Regions from separate parts of the Homo sapiens genome. Here regions 1, 2, 4 and 5 are each linked to region 3. Evidence: fine-mapped expression QTL. A gene starts in region 3. Each other region holds a variant in brackets. All regions are shown on one strand. Distances are from middle to middle.

The links.
Region 1: its variant is fine-mapped to the expression of PREX1 in whole blood (TOPMed, PIP above 0.99).
Region 2: its variant is fine-mapped to the expression of PREX1 in whole blood (TOPMed, PIP above 0.99).
Region 4: its variant is fine-mapped to the expression of PREX1 in whole blood (INTERVAL, PIP above 0.99).
Region 5: its variant is fine-mapped to the expression of PREX1 in lung (TOPMed, PIP 0.99).

The regions. Positions count from the first base shown.
Region 1 is chr20:48,759,198-48,765,472 of GRCh38, reverse strand. The region is part of intron 1 of PREX1 (phosphatidylinositol-3,4,5-trisphosphate dependent Rac exchange factor 1); the gene reads left to right. Among named protein-coding and RNA genes, the nearest start is that of PREX1, 66 kb to the left of the region's middle. RefSeq lists silencers at 409-587, 4,603-4,652 and enhancers at 1,801-2,576, 4,023-4,072. The variant A/G (reference allele first, on the strand shown) is at 3,870.
Region 2 is chr20:48,627,496-48,633,770 of GRCh38, reverse strand. PREX1 (phosphatidylinositol-3,4,5-trisphosphate dependent Rac exchange factor 1) reads left to right here. Exons shown (of 40, transcript NM_020820.4): 34 at 1,132-1,275; 35 at 1,380-1,494; 36 at 2,977-3,043; 37 at 4,150-4,322; 38 at 5,808-5,910; 39 at 6,156-6,223. Among named protein-coding and RNA genes, the nearest start is that of PREX1, 200 kb to the left of the region's middle. The variant T/C (reference allele first, on the strand shown) is at 2,913.
Region 3 is chr20:48,824,824-48,831,098 of GRCh38, reverse strand. It overlaps PREX1 (phosphatidylinositol-3,4,5-trisphosphate dependent Rac exchange factor 1), which reads left to right and starts at 3,100. Exons shown (of 40, transcript NM_020820.4): 1 at 3,100-3,457. The coding sequence starts at 3,239. RefSeq lists silencers at 2,447-3,126, 3,537-3,606.
Region 4 is chr20:48,617,956-48,624,230 of GRCh38, reverse strand. No RefSeq gene overlaps it. Among named protein-coding and RNA genes, the nearest start is that of PREX1, 210 kb to the left of the region's middle. RefSeq lists enhancers at 3,188-3,247, 4,070-4,778, 4,814-5,314 and a silencer at 3,548-3,677. The variant C/T (reference allele first, on the strand shown) is at 2,752.
Region 5 is chr20:48,731,789-48,738,063 of GRCh38, reverse strand. PREX1 (phosphatidylinositol-3,4,5-trisphosphate dependent Rac exchange factor 1) reads left to right here. Exons shown (of 40, transcript NM_020820.4): 4 at 3,414-3,518. Among named protein-coding and RNA genes, the nearest start is that of PREX1, 93 kb to the left of the region's middle. The variant C/G (reference allele first, on the strand shown) is at 2,687.

The sequences.
Region 1 (6,275 bases), 66 kb after region 3:
ATTATCTAGTTCTGACAGCTTAGTATCCCAAGGTTTCCCTTATCTGATCTTTCTAAATGGCTTCTTGCTTTCTAAACTCAGGAACTGAATAGATCTGAATAGTGAAAGATACTTGATGTTGCTGTAATTATTATAGTAATTACTGTTATTAGACCATCTGTCCTTAATGAATATTTGTTTGTAGATACTTTTGTGGGTGGGGAAAGAAAGCATTTTGCAGCTTACTAAACATATGCCAAACAATGTATGAAATGTATAGCTAGACTGTATGATAATATCTGTTTTGTAGTAATCATAATAACAGAGTATTAGGATTGTGTTTGGCCGTGATTCATGGAGATACAACAGGTTTGCTTTTCTTTCGTGTACATGTTTCGAGCTAGCAGTCGTATTAGTTTCTTGTGCCTTTAAACAGCACAGATTTATTATCTTACACTTCTGGAGGTCAGGAGTCTGAACTGGGTCTTACGGGGCTGAAATCAAGGTGCCAGCAGGGCTGTGCTCCTGGGGGGTCTGGGGAGAATCCGTTTCCTTGCCTTTTCCAGCTTCCAGAGGCCCCTGCATTCCTTGGCTTGTGGCCTCGTCCATCTCCCAGCCAGCAGCATAGCGTCTTCTGGTCTTCCTCTGACCCCTGGCACTCACTCTCCTACCTCCCTCTTTTTCTTTCTTTCTTTCTTTTTTTTTTTTTTTTGAGAAAGAGTCTTGCTCTGTCTCCCAGGTTGGAGTGTAGTGGCGCTATCTTGGCTCACTGCAACCACTGCTTCCCGTGTTCAAGCAATTCTCACGCCTCAGCCTTCCAAGAGCTGGGACCACAGGTGTGCACCACCACATCTGGCTAATTTTTTAATTTTTACTAGAGATTGGGTTTTGGTATGTTGGCCAGGCTGGTCTCAAAATCCTGACCTCAAGTGATCCACCCACCTCGGCCTCCCAAAGTGCTGGGATTATAGGCTTCAGCCATCGTGCCTAGCCCCTCTTTTCCTTTTAAGGATCCTTGTGATTATGTTGGGCCCACCTCAATGCTATTGATAATCCCCCCCTTTCCAAGATCCTTACCTTAATCACATCTGCAGAGTCCCTTTTGCCATGGAAGGTGGTGTATTCACAGGTTCCGTGGATTAGTATGTGGACGTCTTTGAGGGATTATTGTTCAGCCCACCACAATGGTCAAGGGCTGTTGGGGCCTCTCTGAGAGTCCTCTGATGTCTGCAAGCTCTGGGTCCTTTCTGTCCTGCAAGTTCTCCCTCCTTTCACGTTGGATCAGAAGGCCTGGCACTGTATTGGGCTCCAGGGACAGAAGTTTCTTCCCTTGTGGAGCTTGGGGGTCACAACTTTAATGATGTGGCCCCATCACTAGTGGGAAGTGAGTGGCTGGTCAGGGAAGCTGAGATCGCAAGAGAGGGTTAGAGTGGATGTGGCAGAAAGTCAGAGCCTGGACTCTGATGGCCCCGAGGTCAGAGGCCAGCTTTGTCTGCTTAGCTGCATGCTCTGAGGCTGCCGCGTCAGCCACTGAGAACCTCGGTCTCCTTTTTCGTAAAATGGAGATGAGATTGTCTAGGATGAGGCAATCGTGGGAAGCATTGGGTACATAGTTGACACTCCCTAAACTGAAGACCCCAAGCTGCAGCCAAGCAGCCAGTGTCTGTACTCCTAAGACTGGCCCTTCTGCTGCCAGAATTCCCTCCCTGGGGCCGAGCAGGCTCTGGGAAAAATCAATGGGAGGAAACCTCCATGGCTGCACCTCCCTCACTGAGGCCTGGGCCCTGAATGCCACTATTTTTACATTCTCTCACTTTTGTGCATTGTTTCCTGACTCTACAAATACAATCCTTCACCAGCTAAGGGGGGACTGCTCGCCCTCCAGCCCCAGGAACAATTGTTTGGGAAGATGGAAAAAAAATAGTTGGACTGAGGAAAAAACAAAACCTCTTGAAAGTCATTGTCTTCAGATGTCAAGTGTCAGCCCCACAGAGAGGAGACCGCATTCCACTCATTGTCCTGCTGCAGACAGGCACAAGGACCCCAGGATGTCCAGCCACCCCGCCCTGCATCCTGGGGCCCCGAGTGACTTGGTTCTCTTTGTCCAGGACATTCCGGCGGGAAATGCCACCCAAAGCAGGGCCTGTTCCCAGCCACCACTGTCTCCGTCACTTGAGGCTTTTCCTTCCAGCCACACGCCCATGCAGGCCCCAGATGGGCGAGGGCTGGTGCTGACGATAAGGGCTACAGTTCGTACAGTGCTTCCTAGTGCATTTTATCCTAACCCATCAAATTCTCCCCATGCCCCCGTGATGCAGGTATCTATTTCTTTTTTCTTCTTTTGGTGTAATAGTGTGAGATATAATTCACGTACCACCATACAGTTTACCCATTTGAAGTGTACAGGTGAATGGTTTTCGGTATATTCATAGAGTTGTACCACCATCTAATTTTAGGACCATTTCATCACTTCAGAAAGAAACTTCATATTGGCTGGGCATGATGGCTTACGCCTGTAATCCCAGAACTTTGGGAGGCCAAGGCAGGTGCATCACCTGAGGTCCGTAGTTTGAGACCAGCATGGCCAACATAGTGAAACCCTGTCTCTACTAAAAATACAAACATTAGCCAGGTGTGGAGGCATGCACCTGTAATCCCAGCTACTTGGGAGGTTGAGGCAGAAGAATCGCTTGAACCCAGAAGGCGGAGGTTGCAGTGAGCTGAGATGGTGCCACTGCACTCCAGCCTGGGTGACAGAGCGAGACTTTGTCTCAAAAAAAAAAAAAAAAAAAGAAACTTCATACCATTAGCAGTCAGGTACCATTTTTATATCCCCATTTCATAGAGAGGGAAGCTGAGACACAGAGAGGCTGTTTAGGGTCACACAGCCAGCAAATGACCGAACCAGGATTTGAACCCAAAATACTTGGCTCTGTCTAGAGGCCATTTTCTTAGCTTTGCTATAATGCAATGGTTCTTAACCAAGGATGATTTTGCCTCCAGGGGACATGGGCAATGTCTGGACACATTTTTGATTGTCACAACTGAGGAGAGGAGGGTTGTTATTTGTATCTAGAGGGTAGAGGGCAGGGAAGCTGCTGAGTGTCTTATAATACTCAGGACATCCCTCACAGCAAAGAACTATCCACTGAACTGTCAAGGTACCAAAGTTGAGAATCTCTGCTAGAATCCCACTCTGATGAGCCCATTTTTCAGGAAAAAAATCAACAACTGAGGAGCCCAAAGGAGTAGGGAGAAGCTGGGTTGTGAATGGGAAGGATTTTAGACCATTTCTGACAACAGTGAAGGGAGATAAATTCTGAACGGCTTGGAGAAGACTTAGCAGGAAAAAGATCTGCATTCCATTAGTGATGTCTGCCCTGGGTGAGGGTAAAGGCGAAGTAGCAGGTTCAGGTTTGCCTTGCCTGTGTCTAGGACAGAAGTCTCACACTCAGGTGTTCACAGGGCGCAGCAGTGGGTTGGGTGGTGGGAAATTGAGGAGCACTTGTCCTGGGTGAAGGTGATGGCTATCACTCTGCTCTACAGCACCTGCAGCCTTGTGGGCATTTGAGACCCATGTGTCAGTTTTTTCAAAAGAAGCTTGGAATTTGGATTTTAATGGGAAACCTGATATTCAAACTTAGGCCCAAGTTTCTCAAACCCCTCTGCAGGCCAAAGGAATGATGCCTCTGAGTTACCAGTTTGAGACCCATAAGGTAGCCCCATCATGTAGAGGAGGCTCTGCATAAATATCTGTTGAAGGAAGGATGGGTTGTTGGTGAACTCAGGAAAGTTTGTAGGCCAGGCCCCAGCCCCTTGATGGGGGCTGCGTGAAGAAAAGCATTGGGTTCCTCTCAGTGTCCCCCACTGCCTTCCCCCACTGTTGCATC[A/G]GACCTCTTCATGACAGGTTGTTGCAACTTGTTTTTTGCATCAACTTCCTCTCCCGATGTGGTGGGGAACGGGGCGGGGTGGGGTGAGAACTGGGCACCTTTTACCAGGGCCTAGAATCTGGGTGGGGGTGGGAGTAGTCTACTCTAGATGATTGATTGACTAATTAATTAAACACATCCTTTTCGAGGGTCTGCTGTGTGCTGGGTCCAATCCTAGGCTCTGGGACACCACAGTGACCTAGACAGACAAACATCCTTGCCTTCCTGGAGGTGAGACTCAAGTGGGCTAGATGGATAATAGACTGATATAAACACACATAATGTCCATGGTGACAGGTGCTGTGAGGAAAACAGAGCAGGGATAGACGTTTTCGATAGGATTGTCCTGGAAAGACTGAATGTGCCTCGGGGCCTTTGCCCCGGCTGTTGACCCTGCCCATGATGCTGTGTCCTCCGATACACGCAATGCTGTTTGCTCCCTGTGTCTGCTCAAATGCCATCTTCTCAGAACGGCTTTCTCTGAACAGCTCCTTGAAATGGCATTCCCACCTTATCCTTCTCTGTTTTCTTACCCTGCTTTAGTTTTCTTTGTAGCAATCATTCCTACCTGCCATTTTATTTTAAAATCAGTGTATAGTCTGTCTCTGCCACTACTTTGTGAAGGTGGGGAGTTAGTCTGATTTGTTCATTCACTGATGTGTCATTGGCTCTTAGCGCAGTGCCTGGCACATAATAGGTGTGCAGTAAGTATTTGCTGACTACACAGGCGAATGTAAGAATGCATAAGTCCTTCCGTGGCAGGGTCATGGCTTATATCTGTGTCTCCAGCACCCAGCTCGGTGCCTGGTGCACGGCAGGCCCTGGTTAACACTTGCTGGGATGGTTGGTACTCGGAGAGGACTTGTCCCCCTAGAATATCATCACAAGCAACTTCCTGCCCCTTTCCTAGTCCAGCCTCCCTCTCCTGGCTCAGCCTTTCTGCCACTTTTTCCAGGAAGTGTTTGTAGTTACAAAGTGTTCACCTGCATCATTTCACTTAAACCTCAACAACTACTCCTCCCCCCCTTTTTGTTTGGTCCAGGAAATTGACTCAGAAGTGTGGTGACTTGCTGAAGTCACGTGGTTGGCAGTCAGCAAGGAGGATGGGGCAGGGCAGAGGGGTGCGCTGGTGGTGATGAGGATGTGGGGGGCTCTGCAGTTTATAAAGCCTTCCCCTTCTCATCTCACCTCAGGAGACTCGGAAGCAGGCAGTCTATAATAATAGAGCTATTTGCAGGATGGAAAAAACTAATAAAAATAAGTAAAAATAGTGTGGGATAAATGTGAGTGTGCTTGGTGCATGTAGAAGCCCTACAGATGTGGTTGATCCAAATCCAGGTTTCCTTAGGAAGCACAGTGGGTTCTGTCTACCTGCACCAGGGCTTGGACTCCCTGCAGACACTCTAGAAACTCAAGATGGGGAGATCATAATAGCCAATGCTTTTTTTTTTTTGAGGCAGGGTCTTGCTTTGTCATCCAGGCTGAAGTGCAGTGGTGCGATCTTGGCTCACTGCAACCTCTGCCTCCTAGGCTGAAGTGATGCTCTCACCTCAGCCTCTCGAGTAGCTGGGACTACAGGTGTGCGCCACCACACCTGGCTATTTTGTTTGTTTGTTTGTATTTTTGGTAGAGATGAGGTTTTGCCGTATTGATTGATTGCTCGAACTCCTGGGTTCAAGCAATCAGCCTGCCTCGGCCTCCCACAGTGTTAGGATTACAGGTGTGAGCTCACAGGTGTGAGCCTGGCCAATAATAGCTAATGTTTTTTGAGCACCTGCTATGCACCAGGGACCATTCAAGTGCTTGTTATGTGTGTTAGCTTCTGTAATTCTCATTGTAATCCTGTGTACTCATTTTATCCCCCGTTATAGAGGAGGAAATGGAGGCAGAGAGAATAAATAATTTACTTCAGGTCTTAGAGCTTGTAAGCAGCAGAGCTGGGATTTGAGCCCATTTAAATGCTTTGCCTGTAGTATTTCTTTTTTTCTTTCTTTTCTTTTTTTTTTTTTTTTTTTGAGATGGAATCTTGCTCTGTTACCCAGGCTGGAGTGCAGTGGTGCGATTTCAGTTCATTGTAACCTCTGCTTCCCAGGTTCAAATGATTCTCCTGTCTTAGCCTCGCAAGTAGCTGGGATTACAGATGTGAGCCACCATGGCTGGCTAATTTTTGTATTTTTTGTAGAGACAGGGTTTCACTATGTTGGTCAGGCTGGTCGCGAACTCCTGACCTCAGGTGATCCACCCATCTCAGCCTCCCAAAGTGCTGGTATTATAGGCGTGAGCTACCGCGCCTGGCCTGCCTGCAGTATTTCATATCAGCCTCACAATAGCCCATGAAGTCAGTAGTTTTATGGTCCCCATCCATGT
Region 2 (6,275 bases), 200 kb after region 3:
ATCGGTTTGTGGGGTGGGGTCTGGGTGCTGGGTAGTCTGGATGTGCAGCCAGGGCTGGGAACTTCTGGGCTTGCTTCTGAAAGCAGGGGTTCTCAGAGCGTGGCCCCTGGACCAGCAGCACCTGGGGGCTTGATAGAAAGGCATATTCTCCGGCCCAGCCAGAACTACGGCCTCAGAAACTCTGGAGGTGGAGTCCAGAGGCCTGTATGCTGAAAGCCCTCCAGGGGCTTCTGAGGCATGTGGGTTTAATTAGGAACCAGGCACTGGATTAGTGTTTCTCAGTTTTTTCATTTCATTAGATTTTATTTAATTTCATAAAAAACCTTTTTAGTCAATTTTTCCTAATTGCTGCACCCCCATGAAATTATACTACTACGGGTATACCCTGTGTCTGTTTATCTGTGCATCTGTGCTTATTATACATTAAAAGAGGAAAGTGTTTTCATTCTCCTTCCCACGAGCCAGTTTTCACCTCCTTGGGGACAGTGTCTCTCCTGCTGAAAATGCATGGACTAGAGTCTAGATGAAGGGCAGGTTCTCTTTGAGTAGCAATTGGAATTGATAGGCAGCAGCAGCTGCCTGTCTCCAGGCTGAGATTGGCTCGGGCAGAGCTTTGATCGATGAGTGATGTCTGCCATGGGTGCAGGATGGGGTCTGGGTGCCATATTTTGCACCCCCTGCCCTAAGCGCTTCCTTCTGGCTATGAATCAGATGTATACCCTGTTTGAGGGCAGCTTTTCCCAGGCAGGGGCCATGGGCTACCGGGTGAGGGTACAAGGAGCGCTGGGGAAGCTCTGACCCCAAATGCTGTGGACCCCCTAAGTAGGCAGAGTCCGCATCAGGTTCAAGAATTAAGCAGCGGAACTAGGAGCTGATGAAGCAGGCGAAAGGGAGGTGTCAGCTGCAGTTCTTCGGAGAGTGAGAGGGAAGGGCTGCTGGAGGCTGTCCCTAGAGGGCAGGAGGGCAGGGAGGTCTGAGGCTACCCCTGTAGAGTCGGGAGAACAGGGAGGTCCCAGGGTGCCCCCCTGGACCTGGGGGCAGGGAGGTGCCAGCTGTTCTGGAGAGGTGTGCCAGGGCTTCCCCTGGCCTTGGCCTCGGTGGTGAGTCATCCTGCCCCATATCCTTCCGCAGACACCAACGTCTTCTACCACATTGAGGGCAGCCGGCAGGCGCTGAAGGTCATCTTCTACCTCGACAGCTACCACTTCTCCAAGCTGCCCTCCCGCCTGGAGGGTGGGGCCAGCCTGAGGCTGCACACAGCGCTGTTCACGAAAGGTGAGCTTCAGGCCTGGGGCAGGGAGGACCACGGGGGCCGGGCCAAGGCCACCAAGCACACCGGCTCCCAACCGCCTGCCCGCCCCCGACATCTCCCCTCCCAGTGCTGGAGAACGTGGAGGGGCTGCCTTCTCCAGGCAGCCAGGCCGCGGAGGATTTGCAGCAGGACATCAACGCGCAGTCCCTGGAGAAAGTTCAGCAGTATTACCGCAAACTCAGGTATCCGCCTGGGGTCCCCGTTGGGGGCAGGAGTCAGGAAACCTCCACGTGGAGTGGGCATTAGCATGGAAGGTGCCAGGCGGACCCCCAGCATGGGCAGTGGGCCGCACACCCTTTCTTGAGCACCTTCTGTGTGACAGCACTCTTGCCTGCGTGAGATTCTCAATGGCAGCAGGCCATGGATCCCACTTTACAGAGGAGGCGACTGAGGCCCAGAAAGTGTACACACTTGCCCAAGGTCACACAGCCAGGCAGTGGCTGAGCTTTGAACTGGGGTCTGTTTGGTTTCAAAGTGGGTCTTTCCTACTGAGAGGAGCCGGCTTCATTCTACAGAGGGTGGGAGCTAGGACAGGGGACCTTGGGACTCTTGGGCCTGTGAGTGAGGGGTGCGGCTCCCAGGGTCTTGGCTGCTCAGAAGAGAACCCCAGGGGAGGAGGGGTGAGAGCAGGAGCCAGGTATCACCAGGAGGAACCACAGGTTCTGGGAGGCAGCTTCTAAGTTCTGCAGCTCCCACTCCTACCACCCTCCCCCACAGCCCTTCCTGCGTGTGTCTCACCACCTCCCTCTGTGACAGAGGCAGGCCGAGAATTAAGACCCCAGGGAGATGAGTACGGGTCTGGGCTTCATCATTTGGAAATGAGAGAATGAGGCTTCATTCGTTTGCTCAGAGAAAGCATCCAGCCCAGTTACTGAAAACTGGCATCTGTTTGGATTGATCAGGGCTGTCATCAGTCTGTTCTGCGCCATCTGTGGAATACTCTGAGTCCTGCCTGTGTGATGATTCATTCATCCCTTCATTCACACATGTTGAGGCCTTCTGCGGGCCGGGCACTGTTCCGGGTGCTTGTTTGGGAATGTGCAGTGAGCAAAACAAAGTCCTGTTCTTCATGGAGCATATATTCTAGAGCAGGGGTTGTCAAAATCTGGCCCTCCTTGTCTCCCTGTTTTGTAAATAAAGTTTTATTAGCACACCTGCATTCACTCATTTTCACATCCTCTGTGGCTGCTTTTGTGCTGCAATGGCAGAGCTGAGTGGCCGCGATCGAGACTTTCCAGTGCACAAAGCATAAAATGTTTACCGTTGGGCTCTTCACAGAAGAAGTTCGCTGACCCCTGTTCTGGAGGGGGAGACGAACAGTAAACCAGTAAGCCCAGAGCCATGAGATGCCAAGTGGTGAGAAGTGCTCAGAAGAGAGAAAAAGCAGGACCAGGGCCTGGGGAGCAGAGGGCTGGGGGCTGCTGTGGACGGGCAGGCAGGGAGGGGTGGCATTGGAGGAGTGCTCAGGAGGCCCCTCTTTCCCCCCCGGCTGTTGTAGGAACAGGTGCCTGCGGGTGAGCACAGCCTGCAGGCGCTCTCAGGGATTTCATTCTGAGAGTCGGCAGAGGGCGGAGTCACGGTGGCTGCAGGAGTTGAGACC[T/C]GGGTAGGGGCAGGAGGATGGTGGGTGTGGTGGCCCCCGCCTCATTCCCATCTTTCTCTCGCAGGGCATTTTACCTGGAGCGGTCTAACCTGCCCACGGATGCCAGCACCACGGCGGTAAAGATAGACCAGGTATGTCCACGTGCCCTCCTGCTGCAGGGAGCTTGGGCAGGGTGGGGCGCTCAGGAGTCAGGACTCAGCAGACAGGCCCAGGGTTGTGCCCCAGCAGATTCTAGCCCCAAAGCCCTTGAGACCCTGCAGTCTCTCCTCCTCCAGGAAGTCTCCCATGATAGCTTCCTCCCCATTCCCAACTTCCTGGGATGATTTATTTTCGCTGGCAGCCGCCCATCTCTGCCACTCCAATCCGCCTTATTAACCACAGCATTTCTCTGAGGCTGGAGCCTGGACCTCATGACAGATGTAACCTGTATGGTATTCTTTTTGTTTATGTGTTTCAAATTTGCTGTCAACCTTTAGAAATCAAAAGATTTCCCATAAAAACAGAGGCTTCCAGCTTTTCTGGAGGAATGGGAAGATCTGGCTGTTGGGGACCATGTTGCCACATGTCCCCGTTGCTCCGAGCTGGGAGCAGCTCCCTCTGAGGGGCCTCGATAGTTCGGCTCCTTGGGCTCCTTGCCTCTGACCCTCAACACATGTCTTTTGGCCTCCTGGTTTTCTAGGGTCAGGCAGGCCTTGAATGTGCTGATGATTTTGGGGTGCTGTCTTGGGGCTGTGAGCTGGGGGCTCCGGGAGGAGGGTGGGCACAGCCGTTTGGGACTTTCCACTCTGGCTGGCAGAATGTCCCCGCAGCACAGCTCGTTAGTGAACCACCCCTTGCACCTCCACGTGGGGGTCAGGGAATGCTGGGGGCAGAAGGGAAGGCTTTTTCTGGAGAGGGGGCGCTTGTGTTGGTCTTGACAGGCTGGGAGAGGGCACTTTCTTCAGGCTTCACTGGGGACACACCTGGGCAGGTGAAGAGAATTAGGTTGGAAGGTTAGACCTGAAATATATGGTCAACACTGACTGCCAGCTTGTAGGGCAGTGGGGAGCCACAGAGGGTTCTTGAGCAGAGGTTATAGAAGATTGAATTGCATTGTTATCCCCAGAGGGGTGAGCTGGGAGGCAGCTGCAGGAACAGCTGGATTAGAAGGATATGGTGGGGGAGGAGGGCCAGATGGGGGCTGAGGGGCTGTGAGGACCTCCTCCAACTCCCCGGTTATGTGTGGTACCCCCTACAGCTGATCCGCCCCATCAATGCCCTGGATGAGCTCTGCCGCCTCATGAAGTCCTTTGTCCACCCAAAGCCTGGTGCTGCTGGGAGTGTGGGCGCCGGCCTCATCCCCATCTCCTCGGAGCTCTGCTACCGCCTGGGGGCCTGCCAGATGGTCATGTGTGGCACAGGCATGCAGAGGTGAGCTGCTGCCCGCTGAGTCGGGGTGTGGGGAGGGGCTGGCCTAGCTTCTGGTCAGTTTGGGGTCCTGTGGCAAGGAGGCAGGAAGGCTGGGTTCCAATCCTGGTTCTGCCATTGCCTGTAGAGCCTTGGCTCTGTCTGCACCTCAGTTTGTCTGTCTGTGAAACGGAATGGCAGCAGCAGGTGGTCCTAGCAGGGCTGTGGAGCCACCTGCTTCTCTAACGCCGTAGTGAGTGTGTGTGAGAGCTGTGCCCTGTAGTTCCGCCGGAAGCCTCCTTCAACATTAACAATAGCAATGGCTGGTTTATGGGGCCTGCTGACCTCACTGGAGGCTCCCCTGCCTCCTACCTCCATCCTTTGTCCCCAGTGCTCATCCCAGGGAGGAAGAGGTCACCTTCTCCAGAGTGCTTCCTGACCTTCCGTTACAAACTGTGCCCACTCTCCCCACTCAGTGCCCTCCCAACCCTCTCTTCCTCTGCAGCCCTCACCCCCACTCCCCAGACAGCCTTCATTGGGGTATTTATTTCCTCCTTGGCTCCCTCAGGGCAGGGCTGGATCTGGGAGGGCAGGGGCCCCTTTTGTTCTCTGCTGTTCCCCAGAGGCTAGAGCAGTGCCTGGCCTGAGACAGGTGCTCAAGAAACATTTGCTGAATAAATGTTTCACGGGGCCAGTGCTCTCTGCCTCCTAGGTCATTGACGTTCCATGCAGATTAACTCCTTTCCGTCTTTCTCTACCAGTGCAGTAGTGGGGCCTATTTTAGGGGATCTCACCTAGGGGCAGTTTTATCCCCGGGGAACATTTGGCAATGTCTGGACACATTTTTGGTTGTCACAACTTAGGGGAGGGAGGAGCTCCTGGCCTTTAGTGGGTAGAGGCCGGGATGCTGCTCAGCTTCCTGTGGTTCCCAGGACAGCCCCTCCAGCTGGGCCAGGTCCTCTGTGCACCACCATGCTCCCTGTTTCATAGTTAATAGTATAGGGAGGCTGAGGTTAACTCAGCTACCCAGGGTCACAGAGGAGTTACATGGAGGGACAGGATTGGAATCCTAGAGGTCTTGCTGCAGAATCCACGTTCTAGAACTGTTGAGAAACCCAGAGAGGTGTGAATCGATGTGTCCATCTCAAACCCCACGGAGCCGACAAGTCGTGAGGCTCCCAGGGAGTCCCCCACTCACTCAGCAGATATTTACCGAGTCCTCCTCTGAGCGAGGCACTGGGAATGTCACAGGGAACTCAACAGGGCTTCTGCAGACGGGGAAGCACCAGAGTGCCTGCCAGTGAGGGTGGTGGCTGCCTGGAGGAAGAGGAGCAAGCGGGGAGGGACGGCAGGAGGAGGCGTTGCCGTGATGGTCAGGATTGGGTCTGGGAGGCCTCGGAGGGACAGGAAGTTGCCCCAGCTCTCACCCACTGTCCTCTGACTCCCGCTGTCCTCCCCCGACCCCTGTCCCCCCACCGCCAACCCGCTGTCCTCCCTCCCCTGCTGCAGGAGCACCCTGAGCGTGTCCCTGGAGCAGGCGGCCATCTTGGCACGGAGCCACGGGTTGCTGCCCAAGTGCATCATGCAGGCCACGGACATCATGCGGAAGCAGGTGAGGCCGCTTGGCCACAGGGTCCTCCAGCACCCTGGGCTGAGGGCGTGGCATGCTTGCAGCCAGGGTGGGATGAGGGGCTGGTAGCCACCAGCCCCAGACCTGAGCCTTCTCTGAATCTGGAGGGGAGCAAGGATCTTAGCTTCTGGGTCCTTGGGCTTCTGGGCCCCACCCCCACCCCCCAGTGTGCTTCCTCACGTGCCCTGAACCTGCAGAGGCCCCTGCCTGATGGTTCCTTCTTCCAGGGCCCAAGGGTGGAGATTCTGGCCAAAAACCTGCGAGTCAAGGACCAGATGCCCCAGGGTGCTCCGCGGTGAGTGGCTGCCTCGTCCGCCCCTTCCTGTCCACTCCCAGCTGGCGACCCA
Region 3 (6,275 bases):
GGGAGGAAAAGCCACCATGCTGAGGATAGGAGGGTCAAAGGTGCCATGATCCTTGATGACATCATGAAGTCCTACACCAGCCTCAGGAACCAACTGCCTCTGGACCTCTTGCTAAATAATGTCCTTATGCTTTAAGCTATCAATAGCCCAGTTTTCTTCTCCTTGCAGCCAAATGCATCCTATTAGATTCAGCACTCAATCCACGCATTGTAAAAGACTTCACTTATTGAGCACCTACTGTGTGCTCTAAGCACCCTCCATGTATGCACTCAGGAACCTTGCAACGACTTTATGATGTAGGTACTGATATTATTCTTAGTTCACAGATGAGGAAAGCAAGGCACAGAGAGCTTAAGTATGTTACTAAACGCTGTATTATCTTTTAGTGTCATCATTACCACTGGGGATGGGGATGGAAGGGGAAAAAGATCCCAGCAGAATCTGAGGAAGTAACGATGTATAAAACATTGGGGTGGGCCAGAGATGGGACCCATCCACAACGTGGAAATGTTTTTTGGCAGTGTGGGCCAATTCTTGGGTGAAATGTGGGATTTGTGTGTAAACTTGAGGCTAACCTTCCTTGGTCATGGGCTGAGAAGGGAACTAACATTTGTTGAGCACCTACTCTGTGCCAGCTATGTGTGTCAGGTACTTTACATCAGTGGTTCTCAACAGGGGGCAATTCTGTCCCCAGGGATATCTGGCAATGTCTGGAGACACTTTTTCTGTTTATTTTTGAGGCAAGGCTTACTCTGTTGTCCAGGTTGGAGTGCAGTGGTGTGATCACAGCTTACTTGCAGCCCTGACCTCCTGGGCTCAAGCAAGCTCCCCACCTCAGCCCAGCAGCTGGTACTACAGGTGTGTGCCACCATGCCCAGCTAATTTTTAAAATTTTTTTGTAGAGACAGGGTCTTGCTATGTTGCCCAGGCTGGTCTTGAACTTCTGGGATCAAACAATCCTCCCACTTGGACCTCCTAAAATTCTGGGATTAGAGGCCGGAGCCACTGTGCCCAGCCTGGAGACATTTTTGATTCTCAGATTGGGGAGGGAGTGCTACTGGCATCTAGTGGGTAGGGGACGCGGCTAAATGTCCTGAAATGCACAGGACACGCCCCTCCCCCAACAAAGAGTTATGTGACTCCAAATGTCAATAGTCCCAAGGTTGAGAAAGTCTGTATTGCATAGAATTCGCTCTCACAAAGACTCCCCTTTTACAGATTAGACGACTGAGGCCCAGAGAAATAACGTGTCTTGGCCAAGGTTACCCTGCCAGTTGGATTTGGACTGGGATACAAATGCAAGCCCGCTTCATTCCATGGTCCATTATGTTCCAGCCATGTTCTCCCCTCGTGGTAGACAGAATTAATTTAAAGATGAGGAAACGGAGGCTCAGAAAGGTACCGTGAACAGTTTAAAGTCACAAAGCAGAGATACTCCAGAGGCCTTTATTAGGAATAAAAATATAAATAAAAAACCAGCTACCTTTGGACACAATTGACTCCACTACCCAAGCGTGACAGGCTCACCTATCTCATGTCCTTTACTCCCTGCCCAGGGGAACTTCACTCAGCCCAAGGCCCAGATCAAATGCTACCTTGCCCATGATCCCAAAGAAAGAAGTCAGAGAGGGCAGAAGCCACCCCATTCTCTCCCTGTGTCCTTAGGCACTTACAGTATTGAGAGGCCAATGGGAGGAAAATCCTAGGCTTTTGGAACAGGAATAAATAAGCAATGTTTCTGTCCATAAAATGACTACAGTCTAGAGGCGGATACTATGTGGATCACTTTATCCCCTGCAGAGACGATACAATCTCTGGTCCGGAAACACGGGTGATTAGGGATTGTATGGGCCATTTGAGAGTGGGGCCAGGCTTAGAGGGCCGTTCACACATGCAATAATAGTAAGAACAAACATTTACAGAGAACTTTCTAGGTGTTGGGCTTCACACATGCAATAATAGTAAGAACAAACATTTACAGAGAACTTTCTAGGTGCTAAGTACTTCCCATGGAACCCCGGGGAGGACCTTGGAGCTAGGTACCATGATCGTTCCCGTTATACTGATGAAAACACTGAGGATCTTGAAGCAAGGAAACCAGCCCAAGGCCACCCGGCCAGCAAGTGGGGAGCTAGGATTTGAACCTGAGCAGCTGACTCTAGGCCCCAGAACTTCCTCCCCTCTCCATACCTTCCGATAAGGCGGGTGATGATCAACATTGCCCAGAGCAACCTGACAAGAAGCTGGGTTTCCCAAGGCCTTATCCCATGGGGTGGGTGGATGGAAGGGGGAGCAGGCAGGGTACCTGCCACTTGATCAATAACTCAAGAGCAGGTAATAATTTCTTCTGGGAAAGGTGGAAAGGGCAGGGTCAGGGGGCAAAGAAGTTCAGAAAGAAAAGGAAGGAAGGAAAGAGAGAGATGGGAAAGGAAACGGGAAAGAGAAAAGTGAGAGCGAGCGCGCGCCACGCATGTTCCTTCCCAAGGTCGTGGTAGCACCGAGGGCACCGCGAGGGCCCGGCGTTCCCGGGAGGGGCCGTCACTGCCCAGAGAGGGGCCGTCACTGCCCAGGCAGCGGTCGCCCCTGACTTCCCGGGGCCGCGGAGGCGCGCGTGGCGGGGCTGGCTTGCCCCCGAGCGGCTCCGCAGCGAGCTTTCCCAGCCCGGTGTTTACTTGGCCCGAGCAGCGGCCGGACCTGCAAGCAGGAGCCTGCGCGCGGCGGGTGTCGCGTGTGCCGGGTGGGAGTGGCGTAGCCCGCGGTGACTGCGGGTTGGGGGGGCGCCACGCGTCCGGGCGCGGAGTTGGTACGCTCGGTTCGGCGTGCGCGCGGCCTCGGACTCCCGGCTCCGCGGGGCCCTTCCGGAGGCTCCCGCCCGACCCCCGAGCTTCCGACGGAGGCGCCGAGCGCCGCGCCGCGTCCCCAGGGGCCCCGTGCACGCGCAGAGCGCCTCTGCGGCCGAGCGCGGCGTGGCACTTGGCAGACGGTCCCTGGCGCGGGGGCGGGGGGCCAGCCGTCTGGGAGCCCCGAGGGCCGCCCCCTCCCGCCCCTCGCCCGGCCCCCGCGCGCTGCCTCCGCCCCCGGCCCAGCCGCCCGGCCCCCAGTCCCGCCCGCCGCGCCGGGAGCCCGGCCCGCCGCTGAGCCCGGCCCGCCGGCGCGCCCCGTCCGGGATGGGGCGCCTGGACGCCTGAGTTGCCGCTCGGCGCGACGGAAGGAGCCGGCGCCGCGCGGCCGCGCTAGAATGGAGGCGCCCAGCGGCAGCGAGCCCGGCGGCGACGGGGCCGGGGACTGCGCCCACCCGGACCCCCGGGCCCCTGGCGCCGCGGCGCCCAGCTCCGGCCCCGGCCCGTGCGCGGCCGCCCGGGAGTCCGAGCGCCAGCTGCGCCTCCGCCTCTGCGTCCTCAACGAGATCTTGGGCACCGAGAGGGACTACGTGGGCACCTTGCGCTTCTTGCAGTCGGTGAGTGTCGCTCGGGAGCTTGGGGACAGCTTTCCCTCCAGCCGCTCGCCCCGCTGCGGTCCCCACAACCTGTGGCCGTGGTCCCCGTGGGTGGAGAATTGCCTCGGGGGCGCCCCGCAGGGCGCGCGGAAAGCGGGGGGGATCCGAGCTCCTCCAGAGCTGTCGCGTCGCCTCCCTCCCTGGCCGGCGCACGGTCCTGCTCCGACCGGGGCTCTCCCGCACTCCACTTCCCCGCGGCGCGCGCTGCCCTTTTGTCTTTTCTTCCCCGTCCCCGCCTTTCAAATAGTTTTAAAATTAGTTACATCCGCGATGCAGGGGCTTGGGGACCCCGGCGGCGCCGGGAGCTGGCGCTCCTGCGTCTTTTTCCCAGGAATAACTACGCGCCCGGTGCACCACTCATCTAGGACATACCGTAGGAGCCCCAGAGCCCAACGTCCCTGCGCGTTGATGGAGTAGGATAAAACCTGAAGCTCAGAGGAGGGGCGGGGATTGACAGAACCCCAGGGTAGAATCCCCCATGCACAGGTTTTTGCTGGAGTTCGGGGAGAGTGGGTTTCGAACTCAAAACTCGGCAGTCCAGGCTCCCTAACTGCATCCACCCCCACCAACTCCCCATCTCCAAGTGCAAAACCACGGCCTCAGACTTTGTAAAATAACAACCGACCACTTACTATGTGCCAGACACCTTACATGTGTCATTAATTAGCAGGTTTAACCTTCACAGGCGGTCTATGAAGTAGGGACGAGTATTTCCCCCATTTTTAATTAAAAAAATTTTTTTTTGAGACGGAGTCTCCCTCAGTCACCCAGGCTGGAGTACAGTGGCGCAATCTCGGTTCACTGCAACCTCCGCCTCCCGGGTTCAAGCAATTCTCTTGCCTCAGCCTCCCGAGTAGCTGGGATTACAGGCACGCGCCAGCCACCACGGCCGACTAATTTTTGTATTTTTATCAGAGAGGGGATTTCACCATGTTGGCCATGCTGGTCTTGGACTCCTGGCCTCAAGTGATCCGCCGACCTCGGCCTCCAAAGTGCAGGGATTACAGGCGTGAGCTACTGGGTCCTGCCTCCTCCGTTTTTAAGATTGGGAAAGTTTAGCTCCAGAGGGGCCGGGTAGCTTGTCTGGGATCGCACAGCTGATTAAGTGGGGGTACTGGGCTTTGAACCGGGACTATCCCAGCTGGTGTTCTAAACCCCTATTCTATGCTGCATTTTTCTTTTGCTTTTTTTCTGTGAGAGGGAGGAAGGGGCCACTTCCCTACTCTCCTAGGAAGTGAGAAAAGTGGCCAGCGGGTGGAGGGGGTGGGACGGGGCAGAGCCTTGGATGGAAGTTAGGAGACTCTAAAGTCTTTAATCTCCATGCCTCCTGCTGGGGCCTCATTTACTCCCCTTCTCTGCTCTAGGAAGTCTTTTAATCCTGGTTCAGGAAGGGCTGGTGTGGGGGTGGCTCTTTCAAAGACCCTAGAGCCAGGCTTTGTAGCTCCTAGTCTTTGGGAGAAAGAGGGAGACTCTGGGGTCCTCTGGGGCTCCTCATGGCTTAGGGGTGCAGCTGAGGCTGTGTGAGATCAGAGTTCCAGCTCAGGGAGGAGACAGCCTTAGACTAGAGCCCTTCTGCCTGTGAAAGGAGATGTACTGGGGGCAGGGGGATGTGGGAGAGGGGGTTGTGCAGAAGCATTGAAAACCATTTGGCTAAAGGACCCTTCTAGGAAGGCCTGTAAGAATAAGGCAGGATTGGCTTTCTTTCCCATCCCTTCTTCTCTCACAGTTTCGGGGGTGGGGGGTGGGGGAAGAATTTGTTCTGTTAGAAGCTGGCAGTTTTTGAATTAAACATGTAGACAACCCTGGTGTCTCTGAGCAATGTCAAATTCTAGGGAACTCCTGACTTCTCCTTCTGAGCCACTCCATGCTCCTCTGCTTGGAAGAGAAACAGGAAATACAAACCAATTTTGATATTAATGGGAAAGAAAATATACCTCTCCCTCCCACGCCCCTGCCCTAGATGGTGTGTTTCATTTTAGAACAGATCTAGATTGTGTTTGAGTTAACTGTGGTTTTAAATCGTCCACGTGTAGAGTAGGAGGAAGCTGGAATAATGGAAATTGATTGGAGCCAACCATTCTTATTATTCAAGAAACAGGAAAAAAAAAGATTTCTCTACTTTCACATTATCTCCTTAACACTTTACATTTGCTGACTTCATCACATTTTTCTTTTTGTATCTGATGTGTCAGTTCTGAGATGAATTGGTTCTGACTTGGACATGTGTCTTGGACCAATCATGCTACGTGTCCTGACCTCAGTTTCCCCACCTGTGAAACAAGGAGCGGGGAATCCGGGCTTCCTTTCTGCCTGGGCCTTTTGTGTGTCCCCAAGCTGGTGCCAGAAACAGACGGATTGTGTAACCTGACCAGCCATACGTTGTTTGTGAGCCACAGGAGTCCTCTCTCATCTTGGCCCGTCAGGAATGGCCCCTAAACATCCCAAGGCATTTTCGTTTTCAAAACTAACCTGGGGCTTAGAGCTTCAGGAACTGCTAATTACCAAGGCTTTCCATGGTTGCAAGGCTGGCAGCCTCAGGTTGTGATTCTCTTCTGTCTTCCCACTCTCTCTTCTCAGCCTTTATATTTGCTAAGGGATTTTCCCTGCTGTCTCCTGGCTTGGAAGAATGCACGGTAATCCCTCCCTGCTTTTATTTCCATGTGGTTAGAGGCAGGCCTTAAAGGACCACCCTGGTCTCCGTGTGTCCTTGGTGTGAAGGTCCCATCGGCCCATGGAAACCGTGGAAAGTAACCCCCGTGATAGGGGCCATGTGTGGCTT
Region 4 (6,275 bases), 210 kb after region 3:
CATCTGCGGTGGGTGGCTTGGGGGGTGGGTGCGGCCGGGGGCACTAGGGGATGAGCTCGCGCTTTAAAAGCCTCATGGAGGACAGTGCTGATCTCTGCATCGGGGCCTTGAACCAGCGACCCCGAAGTCAGTGATGTTTTCACTCTGTGCCTCAGTTTCCTCCTTGATAATGGGGCGATGCAGCTTCTCTCGCGGGGTGATTGCTGAGGACGACCCGAGGTTGCACGGATTGCCTGCAACCCAGGTATACAGGAAAATAACAGGCCTTATTTGATATTTCAGCTTTTTTCCCCCCTGGATTCTGAGCTCCCATTTCACTGTGAAGGTAGGAAAAAGTGACTGTTTTCCCAGGAATTCCACACCTCCTCCTGGGTGGCTTACTTGTGCTGAGGGGACAGTGTGGATCCAAGGGGTGCCATAGAATCCTCCTCGCTCCAACCTGCAAGGCCTGTTGGATCCAGGCGGGAGTGGAGTTCAAAATACCCACAACATGGTCGTGCCGGACCCCCAGTCAGCCAGAACTTACGCTGGCCACAAACAGGCCTATTGGGCAGACGTGAAATGCACCAATGAGAATAGAGAGTCTGCGTGCACACCTGGGCCTGGTGGCTGCATCCTAGGCTGTCAGCAGGTTCTCCACCTGCCTGGGCCCAGGTGATCTTTATGAAGCTGCCTGGGTTTGTTTGCATAGTCAGAGAAACCTCATTCCCTGGGCTGCAGACCTGTTCTGCTGTGCCAGCCCTGTGCCCCCTCGTCCTTTTTTTTTTTTTTTGAGACAGGGTCTTTTGCTCTTATCACCCAGGGTAGAGTGCAGTGGCGCGATCATGACTCACTTAAGCTTCGACCTCCTGGGCTCAATTTATCCTCCCACCTCAGCATCCCAAGTAACTGCAACTACAGGCACGTGCCACCACGCCTGGCTAATTTGTTAAATTTTTTGTGGAGACCAGGTTTCAGTATGCTGCCTACCAAGTAGCCTGGACTACAGGCACACACCACCATGCCTGGCTAATTTTTAAAAATTTTTATAGAGACCGGGTTTCGGTATGTTGCGTATGGCCTCTTCTTTATTCCATCTTTTCCCGATTTCCAATCCTTTGGAAAATGCTGAAATCGATGACAGTTTCCTCTGGGTCATGGCCACCCTTGGGACTCCCCTGTACCATGGTGCTGCACCCAGCCCTGCCATTTCACACTCGAGCCCCTTCTCTTTCAGTCTCTTTTCCTTCCAAACTAACCTGTTGCAGATTACATTCTCTGAAGGCCCAGATTGGATCCCTCCCAGAGAGAGATCCTCGCGTCTCTCAGTTACAGGTTTCAAAGGACTCAATACTCTAACAGGCAAGAGGGAATCCTGGTGGGGTTTCAGGCACAGTCATGGATTGATTATTTAGAATTATCTGAGGCCAGTGTTTGGATCCAGGGAAAATCACTTCGAGGGAAGACCTGTTACCTCAATCTATATTTGAGGTCAACAGGGAGGATTGGACGTCTTCCTTCAGGCAGACACGTTTCTAGAAAGCATCGATTTCAGCCTCTCCTCCACCCTGGGGGCCCGCAGAAGGAACATACATTCTCCTGGGGCCGTAGGCAGGAGCAGCTTGGGTTTCCAGCCGGCTCTCTGTGGCCTTGAGCAAGTTGCATACTTTACAGGCTCAGAGCTGTGCTTGCAGAGTTGGGAGGGAGAGCCGGGCCCACCTCCCTCTCCGAGATGTGTTTCTCCAAGTATAAAACTAAGCACGAAGGGCCTCTCAGAGCAAGCGGACATTTTTGCAGGAGACAAGAGGTCTCAAACTGATGGCTCCAGGCTGAAACTTGGAACTAAATGTGGGTTTTTTTTTTTACTTCCTTCCTGATATGGTGTTTTAAAAAAATGAATTATATTTATGAACCAGCAAATTTCATCTCTGAATTCTGATTTTTAGTTTGTCTCGAAAATCAGAAGCTCTGAGCTGGGTGTGGTGGTGCGCACCTGTGGTCCCAGCTACTTGGAGGCAAAGGTGGGAGGATTGCTTGAGACCAGGAGTTCAAGGCTGTCGTGCGCTTTGATCACACCTGTGAATAGCCAACTGCACTCCAGCCTGGGCAACGTAGTGTGGTCCTGCCTCTTAAAAAAAAGATTAAAGAAAAAATCAGAAGCTCTGGTCACACTGGTCCACATTCCCACCTGGCTACATGTCAGCTGGAGCTGAGGAGCGGCTGTCTTCTTGAGGAGGGTGCCAGCTCTCCAGCTCCCCGGAGCCACGTGGTCCGAGCACTCATCCGGCCTGCTCACGCTGACGGCCAGATCCTTAGCTCTGGACTTGCCATGGCGATGTCAGCTCGGGGAGGACCTGGTGACCCGGAGTCACTGTGCCGTCCAATGGAGAATCAAGGGGCAGGCGCAGCCCCGCATTGACGTCTCTCGGAGCCTCTCCTTCTCTGCTCCTCCAGGATGAGGGCAGGGCCCAGGTGGTTGAATTCCTCTGAGCCTCAGTTTTTTCATCTGTCAAAAGGTGCTGACCCAGAGATGGCCCCTTGGCGTGGACTGCAACAGAGGCCACCCAGGAAGTGGAAGGTACGATGGGGTGTGTTGACCGCTTTATGATTTTATCTAAATAACTGTTGGTGTACTTCCTGTCCACCTTCCCCCCAGCAGTAAGAGCAGGAACCACACCCCTTCCATACTGTAGCCCAGGGCCAGACAGTGGTGAATCACGGCTAAATATTAATAGAAGAAAGCAGGGTTAGCACAGTGATCAGAGCGGGGGG[C/T]GCAAGCCACACCCATCTGTGGCCAAGCGGGCCCCTCTAACCTCTGTGTCTGCCACGTGGGTTCATTCATGGGGGGCTGGACTAGGACCTTTGAAGTCAGACACCCTCGCCTGCTCCTGAATCTGTCAACACCTGATACTTGCTGAGTGGCCATATCTGAGATTCTCTGTCTTTCTGGGACCCTCAGCTTCCTTCTTTGAGAAATGGAGACTTTACGCCCACCTGGCTGCCTTGCGGGGGTACCAGGAGTCTCCTCCAGGGCCCCAAAGTGGAACTTCCCGGGATAAGTGTAGTGCCCTGTCTGTCCAGCAGGTGGTGCTGGGGACCGCGTAGTGCCCAGAGGCTGCTGTTCCCCGGGCTCCAGCACTCAGACCGAAGGCTGGCTCCTGGGTGCAGGTATTTGGGACAGAGCCAGCCTGGAGGCGGGGCCTGGAATCGTCTGGACAATGGGCACTGGCGCTATCCCTCTCCTGGGCTGGGCTTGCCGTGAATATTTTCTCTTTTTTTCTCTCTTTTTAAAAACTTTTTAAAATTTGTCTCTTTCTTACTTTCGTCCCCCTCATTTTCTTTCTCTCTCTCTAAGCTTTTCTATATTTGTCTTTGTCCCATAACATATGTCTGTGAGCTTGACTCGATTTTTCAATTCTTTCCTTTCGGGGATCTTTCCCTTCTCTCTTTTCTCTTTTTTCCCTTCCTCTCTTCTGATTGGAGGAGAAGGATATGAAAGGCCCTTATGCACTGTAAAGCGGGGTGCTTACGAAGCTTGTGACCAGAAACCCACAGTCACTGGTGCACCTTTGTGGAAGTGACGGCCACTAGATGGCGCTGTGGGCCAGGGCGCCCCGCCTAGCCTTGCGGGCCTCCTGCCCAGAGCTCCTGGGAGGCTCCCACTGCAAGCCTGGAGCTCGGGGTTTGCAGGCAGGGGAGGCCGAAAGCCAAGCCTGAAGCTGCCTCCCTCCGGGCACTGGTAGCGTTCCCTGGAGGGCTGGAGTGGGGCAGGGGTGGTTAGGAGAGGGATGCTAAGGAAATGCCTCCGCTGCCAGCGCCTTCACCAGCTGCACCTCCCATTATTGCAGCCAAAGTTTGCTCACAAGGACAGTGGCTGGATTTGAGCCCAGGCCGTGTGGCTCCAGACCCTGAGCCCGGGGCTCTGTCTGGGGTGTGGCCCAGGGGCAGGTCCTTGGGTGCGTGAGGGTGGCTTGGCTCAGCTCCTCTCCCTGGGTCACTGCAGCGGCCCTGTGCTGTTCTGTTTTCCCATCCCGAAGTCCTGAGGGTCTCAGCAGAGGGGCCCAGGATTCAAGTCCATCCACTCCCAGGGCGGGTCCCTAGCCAGCCTCTGCCCAGCATGTGGGGTGGGTGCTTCCCTGTCCTCCTGCTTCCTGCAATGTTTCCCTTCCAGCACTTTCCAGGCTCCAGTTCCCCATGCTGGGCTGCCCGAGCACCCCCACCCTGCAGCTGGCCCTGCTGCCCTGGCTTCCACCTCCAGATCCTTCTTGCCATGTCCGCTCCAATCAGAGCCAACCCACCCTGTGCCCCTCCCAGTGGCTCTGCTGCCTGCTGGACACATGTCACCGCCACGGGGCTGATGGGTAACGGGAGATGCTCTCAGGTCCTGATTTGTGCTTCGCCAGAGCCCTCCTAGAGCTGTAGGTGATGATGGGCACTTTCCAGACACTGGCAGGGCTGAGATGAGCTGCTCCAGGGACAGGAGGTTCAGAGATGAAGAGCTGGAGGAGGGCCAGCCCTGCAGGGCACACAGACTTGCATTGCTGGCTTTTGGCCCAAACAGCTCTTTGAAAAACAGCACAGGAATGGCCCCGGTGGGTGGTATCTGTTTTCATGGTGCGTGGCTGACACTGGAAGACGATGGACCCGTGGCTGCTGGGTATCAGGGGAGGGGAGGGGGCCTGGGTGTGGGATGCAGGGCTGCCCTCCTTCCCTCACATCCCCTGCTGTCAGGAAGAGGGCAGGGGGTCCTGGGGCACTGAGGCTGGGGAGACATGAGGGCTGTCACATCTGTGTCCTATCCAAGCCAGATCCATGTCCTGTTTGCAGAGTCTTGGCCATAAAGAGGGACTGGGAACACTCTGCCTCACCCTCACCCTCGCACCCTCCTCTGATCCATCTGGGTCTGTCTGGATGGCAGAGGCTCAGAAGGTCTGACCCTACCCGATGGTGGAGGCTCAGAATGTCTGAGCCAGAAAGGACGTCGACGAAAGTCTAGAGCCAGGTGCCCTGACTCACGCCTGTCATCCCAGCACTTTGGGAGGCTGAGGCTGGAGGATTGCTTGAGCGCAGGAGTTTGAGACCAGCCTGGGTAACATAGTGAGACCCTGTCTCTATTAAAAATAAAGAAAAAAAATTAGCTTGGGGTGGTGGTGCAAGCCTGTGGTCCCAGGCTGAGGTGGGAGGATCACCCGAGCCTAGGGAGGTCGAGGCTGCAGTGAGCCATGATCAAACCACTGCTCCGCTCCAGCCTGGGTGATGGAGTGAGAGACTGACTCCAAAAAGAAAAGGAAAGACTCGCCTTCCTCCTCCTGATTAACAGGTGAGGCAGATCCCCGTGCCCCATAGGGACTGCAGGGACACTGATGCTTGGTGCTGATTGAACCCCTACTGTGTGTCGCAGGCTGTGCACATCACCTCACTGAATCCTCACGAGAGCCCTAGGGGGGCACCATGGTTGTCGCTGTCCTCCCACTGTGGAGCTGAAGGAGCTGAAGGGGGAAGGCGCTCCCCGAGGGGCACGCAGTCAAGGAGCCTCTGAGCCGGGATTTGTCCTGTCCCAGGTCCTGGGTCCCCACCCGCAGCCCCACTCGCTGCTGGCAGAAGCAGGTCACCAAGGAAAGACCCAGGGGGCTTCCCTCTTGGGGCTTCCAGTGTATTAAAAGTGAAGGAATGCCAAGAAAGGGCTATAGAAACCACGGGCTGGCTGAAATGTTGAAGGAACAAACGAACTCTTTATCGTGGTGCTGTTCAGGAAATAAGAACTACATTGACTTTGTAAAAGTACGTTCATCCCAGGTGCATCTGGGCGTGAGGACGGGAAGGAGGGGGCTGTAAAGATGGGGATTAGGGCTCGTGGGTCAGTGCCTGAGCTTTGTGGCCGGACTCCCTGGGTCCGGATTCCTGGGTTTGGATTCCTGGGCAAGTCACTTGACTCGTCTGTGTCTCGGTTTCCCCATCTGCAGCATGGGCTCCCAACCGCATGTTCCCGGTGTCGGGGTTGGAGGGGCAGGCAAAGCCTTTGATCAGCGCCAGGCTGTGGGTGACTGCCCCAAGGGGGCTACTGGGTCCTCACAGTCCTCGTTTCTCTGAGACTCTAGACGCAGCCTCATTTGAAGGTGACTCCCACATTTAGGAATCCAGGCCTTCTGGGAAAGTGAGGCCCAGGGCCCATGTTAGACTCAGGCCCTGGGGACCAATTGCATCCATTCAGTTTGCAGAGAGGTGTGTTCGCCTGCGTCTCCACCTCCGTGCTCCAGGGAGATCCGCCATGGAGGCTGCTCCCAGAGTAACTGGGG
Region 5 (6,275 bases), 93 kb after region 3:
ATTTGGGTCCATGTCTTTCATTTTCTGCCTTTAAGAGTGTGCATGTATCAAAACTGTCTTTGCTGTACGTGACAGAAACACCAGTTCAGATAGGCTTAAACAAATACAGGACTTTACTGATGCATGTCAGTGAAATTGTTCAGGAGTGTAGGTTGGCTTCAGGCATAGCTAGATCCAGGACTCCGTATGATGATTTCAGGACCAGGTCTTTCTCTGATCTCAGGCTCTGCTTTTATCTGTGCAGTGCTGATTTCACTCTTGGAGAATGGGAGGGGCTTATGGGGTGCATGCCTCACATGGTGGCAGGGGTTCAACAGCAGCTCAAAGAGAGTTTCTCTTCCCAGTGATTCCAGCTCGAGTCCTTGCGGGCTCTTGCGGCCCAGCTTGGGTCACATGGCCACTGTTATTAGGACGGGGAACTCTGATTGGTTTTGTCTGGGTCATGTGCTCACTTATGGTCCCTGGGGTGGGGTGGGACCAGCCTGGGAAGAAGCACAGAGCTGGTCTGAGGGCCCTTTAGCCTCTCCGTTCCTCCTTCTCTTTTCTTCCTTTCATTCATCAAATAGTCACAATACCTGCTCTCTGCCAGTGGCCGCTGACCCCATTGACATCACAGCAGTGACCTCAACAGATGAAAACGCCGTCCCGATGGAGCTGACAGTCCCAGGAGATTCAGGGGAGAAGGACAGTGCATGAATGAGACGTAAAACATCCTGGGGTCAGGGACCATCATAATTCCCAAAATCTGCCTGGGACCCTCCCGATGCTTTCCCTAAACCCACGAGTCTATCTGCTGCCTTCCTCCTGACTCTGCCTGTCTTTTTTTTTTTTTTTTTTTTTTTTTTTTTGCTGTCAAAACCTTCCCACCTACTGCCCTACCCTGTTCAATAAAAAAGGTAATGAAGTTTCTGAAATAATCATGCTGGTGATAATAGCAACAACATTATTAAGCAATAATAATACTAGTTAATATTTAGTGAACACTTACTATGCACCATTGGAAGTCCCTTAATATAAATTCACCTGCCAATCCTCACAACACCATTATGGTAATGATATTGTTGTCTGTACTTTATGGATGAGAATGCAGAGGCCAAGAAATGTTACTTGTCTTGACCAAGAGCTGGTGACCGGGAGACTTGGGCTATGAACCTAGATGGTCTGGCTGCAGAACTTCTCCTTGGCACTTACAGGGTTGATGCTGATAGTGGTTGGTGAGAGTGGTCATGGTGGCTTTTTATGTCACTGCAAGTCTTCTCTGCAGGAGCAGGTTTCCAGACAGGCCAGTTCCTGTCACCTACAACAAAATAGTTGTACTCTTTCTTCCTCTTCCTCTTCCCTGCAGCCTGCATCACCACAGTCTGCAGCTGAAATCCTGGTTCCAGGTGTGTCCAGCAGCCCCCACTCACAAGGTTTTACCTACGGCTGAGTGATCCCCTGCAGCTCAGACATCTACTCACCCAGCTCTTTTGGCCTTGATGGTCCCTTAGGCCCATTTGAGACAAGTGGGAATAGAAAAAGGTCTGCCTGGGCAGTGTTGGGGGTGCTGGGGTCCCCTCTTCTCCTTCCTTGCCATGTGTTGGCATCTCAGTGGACTGCAGATACTTGATGAGTGAGTGGTGGTTTGTGACTCAGTGCATGTGTCCATGTGCATGCTGACATTGGTGGTGGTGTTTGGAGCATGTAGTTTGCATGCTGTAATGCTTGAGATCATTGTGTGGTTTCTTGGAATATGCATCAAGATTGTGTGTCTTGTGGTATGTGTGTGTGTATGGGGGTGCACTGTGGGTAATTGTAACATGGTTTGTCTGATATTTTCCCCCATTGATCCATGTTTGTCGATTGTGTTTATGTTTGTTGTTAATACTTGTAGAGTACTTTGAAGTATTGTGTGGTATTGAAGTATTGTGAAGTATTGTGTGCCAGACACCGTTCTACTCATTTCACATATATTAAGTTATTTCATCCTCCAGCATCCTAAGTGTTGAAGGTCAGTTATGATGTCCATTTTGCAGGTGAGGAAACCAAGGCCTAGGGAGGAGAAGCACTTGCCCAAGGTCACCCTCTACTTAGGGAATGTGGAACTGGGTTTCTGGAGTCACTCTGTGCCCTTCAGTATTCTGGTGTAGTGCCCTTGGGATGCAGCTTAGTCTAGATTTGTGGCTTGAAATTTGTACCCTGGGTATTTGCCTCCCACTCCCATCCCTACCCTATGCCATGACCTTGAGCTGACACTGTCACTGGGGTTAAGGGGGTTTGAGTCCTGGTTCTGCCACTGCACTAGCGGCGAGACCCTGGGGAAGCAACTTTTCCTTGGTTTTGTCATGGGTATGTGAGTCTGTTACAGTAGTTACCATGTAAGGCTGTCGTGGGGAATGAGTGAGTTCACCCCCATTCCAGGAGAGCAGCGTGCAGCCTGTACTACATGCTGGGCAGCCTGTACTACATGCTGGGCAGCCTGTACTATGTGCTGGGTATGTACTCTGTGTTAGCCATCAGCACTGACCTGGGCACTTTGTGGCTCAGGGTGTCTGCTCAGATGATGCACACAGAGCCCCCAGAGTGAGCTGGGGTGGGCTGGGGATGCCTGTTAATTCTAAACCCATCCTCCCTTCTCTTTGGTTTCCTATTTCCTGCAGCCTCCCATCGGAAGGCCATCTGGGGGCTTGTTTAGAAACAAGATGAG[C/G]TGCTTGCTTTGTGGACCCACCTCTTCCTTCCTTAGCTTGTTCGGGTCTCTTGCACACCCCCATCCCTAGCTCAGGATTGAGGCCTTGCAACCCTTCCTCCTCCAGTGACCTCACCCACGCCATCCTTGTTTAGGGTTTGGCGGGTTCTGTGAACCATCTGGAACCAAGAATGCTCAGTTGAGAGCTTCCTGCTAAGAAGGCTCCTGTCTCTTCCAGTACGGGAAACCCTGACTGATGGTTCTGGACCTAGTGACCCACAGGTGACCTTTAGTCTGGAAGGAGTACATCTTTGGGCTCAGGGGCATCTGGAGGTCAACAGAGCTAGCCCCCAGCTATAACAACTCTGACTTAGGGACTTTTATTAACTCTACCTTACAGATAAGGAGACCGAGGCACAGGGAAGTCAGGTAACCTGCCCAGGTTCACAGGAAATACAGAGCCGTGGTGCAAGCCCAGGCTGCTCTTCTTGAGTCTATGCTCTTGACCCCCAGGCCACACTGCTTCCCAAAAAGTTATTCAGGCCCCTGAGTGCAGACCTGGGGCAAGAGTGGAGGCTGGGAAGCTGGTAGTGAGTGGAGCCGCTTTACCTGAGATACCTCCTGCTGTAGCTTCTCCTGGGTCAGGGTAGTCCTTACCCCTACCCTACCAGCCCAGTGGTCAGCATGTGTCAGGGCACCTGCCTGCTACCATGACCTGCCTCCCACAGGCTCTGTCCTTGTCTTGCAGAAGGACAAGTTCTGCGTGTACGAGGAGTATTGCAGCAACCATGAGAAAGCCCTGAGGCTGCTGGTGGAGCTGAACAAGATCCCTACCGTGCGCGCCTTCCTTTTGGTAAGTTGACCCGTCAGCCCTGGTGCTCCCTTGCACTCGGCCTCATCCTTGTGGAATCTGGGCACAAGAGGACTTCATGCTGCCCCATGGTGCCAAATCCTTTCCTTGGCTGGGGTAATCTCCTGCCTAAAGCAGGGATCGCCAAGCCTTTTCCATAAAGGGCCAGCTGGGGAATATTTTTGGCTCTGCGTACCATACAGTTTCTGTCACCACGACTCAGCTCATGCCATTGTAGCATGAAAGCAGCCCTAGAGAATGTGTAGAGGAGTGGGTGTGGCTGTGTGGCAATAAAACTTTATTTACAAAAACAGGCAGAGGGCCAGATTAGGGTTGACTTTGCCCATTCCTGGTCTAAAGTAAGGGTTCTATTAAAAATGGCAGCAAGAGTAGTAATTATTAATACTACTGTCATTATGATGGTTATTAGGATTACTAGTATTTTTAGGATTATTTAATTATAAATGAAAGAAAATCCAATTAAAACTGGCTTAAGCGGCCAGGTGCGGGGACTCACGCCTGTAATCCCAGCACTTGGGAGGCCGAGGCGGGTGGATCACTTGAGACCAGGAGTTCAAGACTAGCCTGGCCAACATGGTGAAACCCTGTCTCTACTAAAAATACAAAAAAATTAACTGGGCGTGGCGGCATGTGCCTCTAGTCCCAGCTGTTTGGGAGGCTGAAGCAGGAGAATTGCTTGAACCTGAGAGGCAGAGATTGCAGTGAGCTGAGATGGTACCACTGTACTCCAACCTGGGAGACAGAATGAGACTCGGCCTCAAAAAAAACAAAAAACAAAAAAACCCAAAAACTGGCAGAAGCAAAACAACAACAACAACAACAGCAACAACAACAACAGAGGGATTTACTTTTCTGGGGAGTTTAAGACCTGAGAGGGCTACAGAGATGGCAGAGTCTGGGTGTTCAAATGATGTCATCAGTAATGTATGTCTCTTGACTCTCCTTTTCTCTGCTGTGGCTTTATTCCCAGGCAGGCTCTCCCGAAGTGGTAACAGGGTGGCCTCCAGCAGCTCCAGACTTATACCTCTGATAGCTGAGCAGCTTCAGGATAGAGAGAACTTCCCTTTCCCCATAGTAACAGCAAAAATCCTAGGTCTGATGCTCGTTGGCTCAAAACCTTATCCCTGAACCAATTGCTGTAGACAGAGTAATTGGTGGTGGTGTTCTGATTGGTCACTTCTGGAGATGGAAGGTGGGGTCAGGTCTACCCATACAATAGAGCCTAAGGGTAGAGTGGATCCCTAAAGCAGTTGGTTTGCATTTCTGGGGATATTTGTGTTTGCATTTCTGGGTATATTTGCATTTGCATTTGGTCAGGAAAAACTGTAGACATCCATGATGGTCTTCCCTACACTTGTAGAGAGCCTCACTTATGTATAAAACGGATTGTCATTTGTGACCTCCTTTGAGCCTTTCAAACCACTATCTGTTGTGTATGAGTCAAGATAAACATTTGTCTGCTTTGCAGACATCTCAAAGGACAGTGGTTTGAACAAGGTGGGCTCTTATTTCTCCCTCTTGTTAACAGTGTGGGTGCAGACAGTCTGGGGCTGGTATAGTGGCTCCAGTGTCAGGGGCTAAGGCCCTAGGTTATGATGCTCATTGACCTGGTCTCAGATGACCTTTGACTACATCCTACTTCCAGGTGGTGGGGTGGAGGGAGGGCGGGAAGGAGAGCATACCCTTCTCCTTTTCAGGGCGTAACAGGAAGCTGCACACATCTCCTCCCCTCACGTCCCATCGGCCAGCACTCAGCCACATGGTCACCCCTAGATCCAAGGAAGGCTGGGAAATACAGGCTTTATTCTGAGCAGCCATGTGCCCAGCTAGAAATGTGATCACTGTGGAAGAAGAATACATTAGGGGACACTGCATAGCCTTTGTCACAGGTGATTTTGATGACTTCACAATATTAAGTGACTTTCTAGGGGTCCATCCTAGAAAAGTGGTTGAGCTTATCCTGGGTTTCAGTCCCAGTCTTTCACCTCTGAATCCCTTCTCATTCGGTCACAGACGTCTCTCCACCCCCATACTGTTTGTTTTCCCAACAGCACATACCGAATTCAGTATATAAAAGTAGAACAATTAACTAACATAGCATACGGAGTATGAACCACGTTCCCAGAGTGCTAAACTATAAAATAATATTCCTAATTGCACTTCTCCTTCACTCAGTCTCCAACAAAGTAGTTCCAGAATTTCGATTCCAAATGTGTGTTTCCTTCACAAGTGAGTTCATGTTGCTTGGCCCGGCTCCAGTGAACATCTGAGGAAGGGCAAATTGGCAGACTGATTTACTGATTTCCATCTTTGTCTCAAGTGAATTAAGCTTTCAGGACTGTTGCTTTTCATAGCCGGTACCTACATCTTCACATTTCCATGTTTGCACTTATATTCATAAAATAGTCTGGGCAGAATGCAAAGATGAAGTCACGTTACTGCAAGACCCCACATGGACAGAAATGGCCATGTCTGCATTGACCTGTTGGCTTGCAGGCAGCACCACCCTGTGACAGTCCCTGCTGCCCAGGCTCTGGGCTCCCTGGCTGAGGGTCCCACCCTCTGACAGTATTCCCTCAGGTTCAGCTAGGTCCTGGGAAGGAGGAAGATGCCAGGAAGGTGTGTGCAGGGTGTGGGAAGGGAAGGGAAGGACTGACTTCTTTCTTTCTTTCCTTCCTATCTCAAGCAGTCTTCCTGGTGGGTCAAACTGCCCTATTCCTAGCAGCAGCTGGGTGGGCC